2 linked regions of the Homo sapiens genome follow. The protein of the gene in region 1 binds, or shares a complex with, the protein of each later gene. Each region holds a gene or a part of one and is shown on either strand. Other genes may lie near its edges. The genes, in order: STRN and STK25.

Region 1 (3,815 bases):
AACATTCAGACTTACTTTCTTTTTGGTCAGCCTTTTAACAAGCAAGACAATAAACTCCTTTTGTCAGAATCGATTTGATTAAAAAAAAAAAAAAAGAATGTGCTCCTTATTTCTCATTGCTGTAGAATACGTAGGAATACACATCTACTAATCACAATTAAAAAATAAGAGAATCTTTAGAAACATCATTGCTTTCTGGAGGTAGAAATTTTGAACTTGAAGGTTGTAGTTCCAGGCAATTTTGTGCCCTTGAGGTGTCCAATTGATAGTATAGCTTGCCTCTGCTAATAAATACACAAAAGTTTTCTTTCCTGTGATTTTCAGAAATTATTTTTGGAATACAAAGATTAATAAGGAATATGTGATGTTTATCTCCTGCATTTCAAAATCTTCTGGATTTTTTTTGAGGCATGAGGAGCAGGTAATGAGATTTTTTTTCTGAATATCTTGATTCTCTCCCTTAACCCAGATTTTGCATATTATGCATTGCTCATTTGTCACCTACAAAAATAAAGGTTAATGATTATTTGTTTGCTTTTGTCTATATAAGCTCCCTAAGGCACAGACCATGTTCGTTTTTCTTATGTTCCTCTTAGCACTGTGCCTGGTGCCTTGCCATATAAAAGGTACCCTATAAATATTTGTTGGCTGAGTAATCAGAGAGCCCATTTCAAAATCTAAATTATACAAATCATCAAAGACCAAAAAAAAAAAAAAAAAATCTCTTGACAGTTGATGCTCAAATGCATTTGGTTCTGTGGAGCTTATCCTGAGATTGAGGTCTGCACCTTGACTGGAGAGGAATTTGGACTTTACCTCACAGGTAGCAACAAAATGCCTGAGTAGCAACGTCTTTATACTGCACAGTTCCAGTCCTGCCTGCGTGAAAACTGAGCAGAGCATGGTGGGGACAGGAAGGTGTCCCTAAACCCTGTTGATGACCTCCCATCTATCCCCGGACCCCCATATCTCCTCTGCTCATCCCCTGTTCCCCACTGGCCTCTGATCAGTTGAAAGGGAGCTTTTCTAGCCTGGAACCTGAGCCTGCCTTGATTATCCTGGGCTCAGAACAGGTCCACTTCCACACTCTTTCCTTGCAACCTACAGATGGCCCTACTGACTGCTGTTGTCCAGGAGAAAGACGAACCTCCCAGTGGAATCTTGTCAGGAAAGGCATCCCTCTGGGGAGCTTTCTTTGGAGAGGAAAATTCTGGGACAAAGTTCCTCAGGATGCTCTCAGGCTGGTTTTTGTCTTGAAGATTTTATAGTAATTGTACCAATGTTTATTAACTCTCCTAGGAACATCTCTGTCTTTGGTTTTCTGACAGCACTCCAGCAGGGCCCAGGGCTTTAGCTGAACAGTGCAATTGTTTTAGGAATAAAACAGTCAACAAGTTAGAGACCAACTATTTATATTTAATATTCAAATGACTTTAAATCATTAAAAGAATCAGCAAATTACATATGAAATATTCAACGAATAATCTCAACATTAAACATATACCATGTAAGAACTGTCATTAAAATTACTAAAAATATGATTCCTTTAAGATCAGTTCAACACAGAAGAAAGCAGGAATTTGGCCTGGACAATAGGACATTTATTGTCTGTTAGATTTTAGACAAGTCAACTCTTCTAAATTGGCTTCTCATCTATGAAATGGGGATAATAGATCTGCCTAATTAGGTTGATTTGAGATAACGGATGTAAAACACCTAATAAAATAAGCATCCAGCAAATGACTTGTTCACTCTCTGAATACAGACTTCTGGTCATGTAGTTCGGTCACACTCCTGATAGCTTCTAGAACATCAGGGTTTTAGGAGAAATAGGTTAAAATGAACATCAAGAGTAGCAGAAGACTACTTTCCTTAATATTTGAGTGCCAGCTATATGCCACACAGTTCTAGTTGCTGGCAGTCAGCAGTAAACAAAAACTTCACCTGATGCAGCACATTCCAGGTGGGGGAACAAGTGAAAATATAGGGAATATTAGTGATAAGTGCAGAGGGAAAAAAAATAGAGCAGGGAAGGGGGATGATTTGATGTTTTTCAGGTTAAGAAAGTGACAGAAATGAATTTAAATGCAAAAAACAATGCATAAAGATTCATAATGGCAAAACGAAGCATGTCCCATCATACCCCTTCATTCCTACCTCCCTGATATGTATCTTTCTAATTATTCATACAAATGTGTATACCCAGTTATTACATATGGGGTTTTATTCTACATATTATGCTGCACTTGCTTTTTCTAATATAATGTGTATCATGAGCACCTTACAAATTTTTAAAGGTCTCTCAAATTTATCAGTAAACATATACAGTCTAACGTTAATGAGAAGATATTTTGGTGGGCAGTTTGCTTTAAATAAATGGGATCATGTACGTTCTCTGCATCTCACATTTCTCATTTAACAATGTAGGATGAGAATTTCTCTAAGTCTATCATAGCTCTTATTTCCTTTTTATTATTACAATAAACATTCCTGTGTATATGTTTGTCACCATGATGGTTTTACGTCTGCGGAATAGATTCCCTGGAGTAGGATTGCTGCATTGAGGAGTATGTATATTTAAATTTTTAAATAAATATTGACAGATTGTTTCCCAAAGTGGCCGGAACAGTTTTTATTTCCATCAGTAAATGTATAAAAACACTTTTCCCTTAATACTCATGGCAATAACTATTGTAACATTAAAAAATACGTAGAAAAAAGAAAAAAATCCTGGTGGATGTAGTGATTTTTCAGTGTTATTTTAATTTCCATTTTCCTGACTACTATAAATGTAGACATCTTTTCAAATGTTTTGGTCATCTGGATTGCACTCAGAACTGAATTATCTATTCAAAGTTCTGTAGGTTAGAACTCCAGGGAAACTCAACTGGGCTGTCTGTTCAAGGCCCAACAAGGCTGAAATGAAAGTGTCTTCCAGGGTGGGTACTCAACTAAAGCTCTGAGGAGGAATTCGCTTCCAGCCTCATTAAAGTCAGAGGATGGAGGTCCCTGTCTCCTAGCTGACTGTCAAATCTGATCCTTTAGAGGTTGCTCCGTGGTCCTTGCACGTGGTCCCTTCCACCTTCAAAGCTTGCCAGGGTGCATCAAATTATTTTTATACTTTGACTCTACTTCTACCAGCCAGAGAAAACTGCTTTTAAAGGGCTCTTGTGACTAGTTTAAGCACACCCAGATTGTTAAGGTCAACTGATTAGTAGCTTTAATTACATCTGCCAAGTCCCTCTGCCCTGCAATGTAACATCAACCATGGAAGTAACATGAGGGGCAGAGTTCATGGGGGCCATCTTAGAATTCTGCCTACCACAAATATTCGTAGTTATACTTTTATATACATTTTTAAATTTTTCTTATTTTTGGTCCATATGTTTGTACCGTTTGTCTTTTTAGTTAACTAGTTTGTGAAAGCATTTTGTATGTTGTACAATATATGTTCAGATTTTCTTATCTTGGATGCAAACATTTTTTTCCAACTCTTGTAAGTTGTCTGTTGACCACATTCAAAAGTACTTTTTCCAAATAAAACTTTGCCTTTTGAATTTCACTTGAGTGAATTGCATATTTGCATTTTAAAATGTTTATTTTGTTATTTTATTAAAGTTTTGCCCATGTTCCACTGTGTTTTTTAAAATTTGCAGGTGCTCTTTTTATACTACATGTAAACCCTTTTTCTTACTATTTGCCAGTGTTTTTCTCCAAAACTATATTATTTTTGTTGACCATGTTTATAATACCTTTTCTCATTTAAAACTTTATATTAGGGCTTGGCAGGGTGGCTCACGCCTGTAATTTCAGCA
Region 2 (3,815 bases), about 200 Mb from region 1:
AAGGGAAACCCGAGGTACCAGACGGGGCTCTGCCAGGCCACGGGGTCCAGCTGATGCCTCAGCAGGCCCTGTCCTGCAGCCTTGAGGGGGTCCCTGCCCAACACTATATCTGGTCACCCTCACCCCCAGGGCCCACGCCCCTGCTTCTGGAGTGGGGACCACCCACGTCACAGCACCTAGGGTCACCATGAGGATAAACCAGGTCCCTACATGTCAGAGTCCTCAGAGCTGGACTCCTCGCCATGCCCCTCTGACTTCCAGCGCTTATAGCGGTCGATGAGCTCCGTGAGGAAGGAGGTCTTCTTGGTGTAGCGTGTGATGAACTTGTGCTTCAGGAGCTCCTTGGCCGTGGGCCGCTGCAGGGGGTCAGGGGAACACTAGTCACTGGGCCCAGCCAAGCTCTGCCTAAGGGAAGCAAACGTGAGGCAGCCTGGACCGGGGCGGGCCCTCACAGCTACAAGGCTGGTGGGCCTGGGCCTCCGGGCTGTGCCGCCCACCCCAAGCGAACGCCCTCCCTCCACGTCCTGTCTAGAAGGGACCGGGCCAGAGGCGGGCCTTACGAATCGGGGGTCTTTGTTGAGGCAGGCCTCCACGAACTCCTTGAAGGGCTTGCTGTGCTGGCCCTCCAGTGTGGGTGGGCTGTTCTTGGGAATCAGGAACAGGACGCGCATGGGGTGGAGGTCAGAGTTTGGAGGCTCCCCCTTGGCCAGCTCGATGGCTGTGATCCCCAGGGACCAGATGTCAGCCTGGACAGAACACAAGGACTGTTGCTGCCCTGAGCACCCGAGCCAGGCATGGTGCCCGCACCTGCCCGCCCGCTGCACCCACCTTGAAGTCGTAGGCCGACTGCTTGATGACCTCAGGTGCCATCCAGAAGGGGGTGCCCACGAATGTGTTCCTCTTAATCTGCGTGTCTGTGAGCTGCCCTGCTACCCCAAAGTCCGCCAGCTTCACGTCACCCTGCTCCGAGAGTAGCACGTTGGCAGCTGCTTGACACAGGACAGGCAGGCGTCATCCCAGGCTCCACGTGGCTCCACCCCGGGCCCCCTGAGAAGGGCCAGGGTACCATCCACCTGGCCTCCTAGGGCACAGCAGGGCTGTCCTCAGGACCTCAGCCCTCCTTGCCACTCTCAAACCCAGGGCCACCTAGGGCCACAGGGGCACTGCCAGCAGGAGCCCAACGGCTCCACTCCGAGCTCCAGGGCTCTTCCTGCATTTGGCTTTTACGACAAATCCCAACGACAAGCGACTTCGCCCACTGGGGGCTACCGCAGAGGTGACCCTGACCAAGGGTGTAGCCAACACGGGCCTGCCAGGAAGCCCCCTGCTCCACCAGAATCGTCCCCTACATGACAGAGATGGCTCGTTGCCAGTGGCAAGTCCCTCCCCATGGGCTGGCCCAGCCTCCCGTCTGCTCTCAGCAGGGCCAGACCACACGCTGGGGCTACTCAATTCTACACCTGCTGCTGTGCCGTGCACCACAGGGAACCAACAACTCCAGCCAAGTGTGGCCCTTTCCTACACTCAGTCCACAGCTGGTTTCCTCAGCGTACAAGGAAACCGTTACAAGTAGTATCTTCTGGAAAGGGAGCGAGACAGGACTGCTCAGTTTCAGGGTGGCCACAAGGTTCTCTATACTCCAGACCCTGGGCACCACTAGCCACTTGCCCCTCACAGGCCCCGGCCTCTCTAAGGTCAGTGGGGCTCAGGACGTTACAAGAGCCACATCCACCCCCAGCAGGACCTTTGATGTCTCGGTGGATCTTGCGTTCGGAGTGCAGATAATCCAGGCCCTTCAGAATCTCCCGCAGGATCGTGGCAATGTATGTCTCCTCCAGGGGACCTGGTTTAAGCTGGAGAGGAAGGTGCGACAGCAGGGCCTCAGCTCCTGTCCCAGGCCCAATGCCTGAGTTCTCTGCCTCTCTCACAGGGAAGGGCTGTCCCTGCAGATAGCTGGGGGCTTCGTGTTCCTTTACTTCCCAAACAGAACTAAGTTTCAGATGGGAGTGGGGTGGTGGAGGCTCTTTCTAAAGCATATAAACCAGCCTCACCTTACTGTCATGTAACAGAAAAATAGGCTCCCAGCCATCTCCCAGCAGGCCTGCCCCCGCCCACTCCCACAGGCCAGGACCCCTTTCAGCACCAACTGGGCAGACGTGCAGATGGCAGTTCATTTTTGCTTTAGACGATTCCTAATTAACACCTAACGTGCCATGACACCAAACGAGAGGTGGCCCCTGGAGCCCATGAGTCTGAGGGGCAGGGGACTCGGACACTGCATGACCCCCCACTGCCATGGCCTATGCCTCACCAAGTCCAGTGCTGAGCCGCCGCCCAGGTACTCCATGATGATCCATAGCTTGGTGCTCTGGGACCGGAGACAAACCCATCAGCATTTGGCAGCAAGAGGAAGGGCATGCTCCAGGGTGGGAGTCACAGGCCGGAGTCAGCCAGGGCCCAGGCCCCACCGGTCCCATCCCTGCCAAGAACCCTGAACAGGAAAGGGCTCTCTCGGCCTTGCCCATCTTCCCCTCCTGCCACACTACTGCTACAGATGCTCAGAGGACAGGTTGAGTACACACAGCAGTGGCTGACTCCACTTCACCAAGACCCCATCAAAAACCAGGCTGCTGATCCAGTCCTACAGGGCTGGGAAGAGGGCATGGCTGGCAAGCATGTGACCCGACACACCCATCACCCTCCTGGGCAGGATGGCCACAGCGTTCCCTACACCCCAGACACTGGCACCACCAGCCACCTGCTCCTCACAGGCCCACTCACCACTGCCAGTAGGGGCCCCCCAGAGTGCTCCTAGCAGCGCCCTCACTGCATTACCACAGGCAGGCAAGTGGGTCCCAATGGCCATTTAGAGCCAACTGACCCTCGTGGACGAGGGCTCACACCCTGCCTGCCCAGGGCAGTTTCCCGGAGGGCATGCACTGAACCGTCAAGACCGCCTTGCACCCTCTGGCATGTCACTCAGTCCCTCTGACATGGAAGAGAGCCGGGCACAGCACCAGCAGGGTCCCCGCCTCCCCACAACAGGCACCTTTAGGTAGGAGCCAAAGTAGCGGGTGATGTAGGGGCTGTCGCACTGACTGAGGACAGTGATCTCCTGCTGGATGTCCTCGATCTCATCCTCGGCCTCCTCCAGGTCGATGATCTTGATGGCCACCACCTCCTTTGTGTGGTTATCGATGCCCTTGTAGACCTCCCCAAACGAGCCCTTGCCAATGCGGTCGAGCTTGGTGAAGAGCTCCTCAGGGTCCACTCGAGAGTGCTGTGGGGCCAGGGCGGGGACAGAGGGCAGACAGCGCCGGTCACAAGAGGCGGGGGACAGGCAGAGGCTGCCCTGCTGGGGAGGAAGGGACCTGTAGGGAAGGGGGAGTCCAAGGGAGCGCACCTCAATTCTTCTCTGGTTTCTTCCTTTCTCCCTTTTTGTTCAAAAACTAAACTTGGCCGGGCGTGGTGGCTCACGCCTGTAATTCTAGCACTTTGGGAGGCCGAGGCAGGTGGATCACTTGAGGTCAGGAGTTCGAGACCAGCCTGGCCAGCATGGTGAAACCCCATCTCTAATACAAAAAAATTATCTGGGCGTGGCGGCTCATGCCTGTAATCCCAGCTACTCAGGAGGCTGAGGCAGGAGAATTGCTTGAACCCGGGAGGCGGAGGTTGCAGTGAGCCAAGACCGCACCATTGCACTCCAACCTGGGCAACAAGAATCAAACTCCATTAAAAAAACAAACAAACAAACAAATAACAACAACAAAAAAACCTAAACTGAACTTTCCATGCAAGGGAAAAAGTCCCCAGAA

What was found.
Region 2: STRN (region 1) and STK25 share a complex: the UniProt entries of both Homo sapiens proteins name them as parts of the core of STRIPAK complex.

What each region holds. Positions count from the first base shown.
Region 1 is NC_000002.12:36,837,445-36,841,259, reverse strand, and holds the end of STRN (striatin), read left to right. Parts: 3' UTR 1-3,562; downstream 3,563-3,815. UniProt on the Homo sapiens protein: Calmodulin-binding scaffolding protein which is the center of the striatin-interacting phosphatase and kinase (STRIPAK) complexes.
Region 2 is NC_000002.12:241,498,429-241,502,243, forward strand, and holds part of STK25 (serine/threonine-protein kinase 25), read right to left. Parts: intron 3,281-3,815; coding exon 3,050-3,280; intron 2,369-3,049; coding exon 2,312-2,368; intron 1,854-2,311; coding exon 1,745-1,853; intron 987-1,744; coding exon 829-986; intron 747-828; coding exon 561-746; intron 357-560; coding exon 211-356; intron 1-210. UniProt on the Homo sapiens protein: Oxidant stress-activated serine/threonine kinase that may play a role in the response to environmental stress.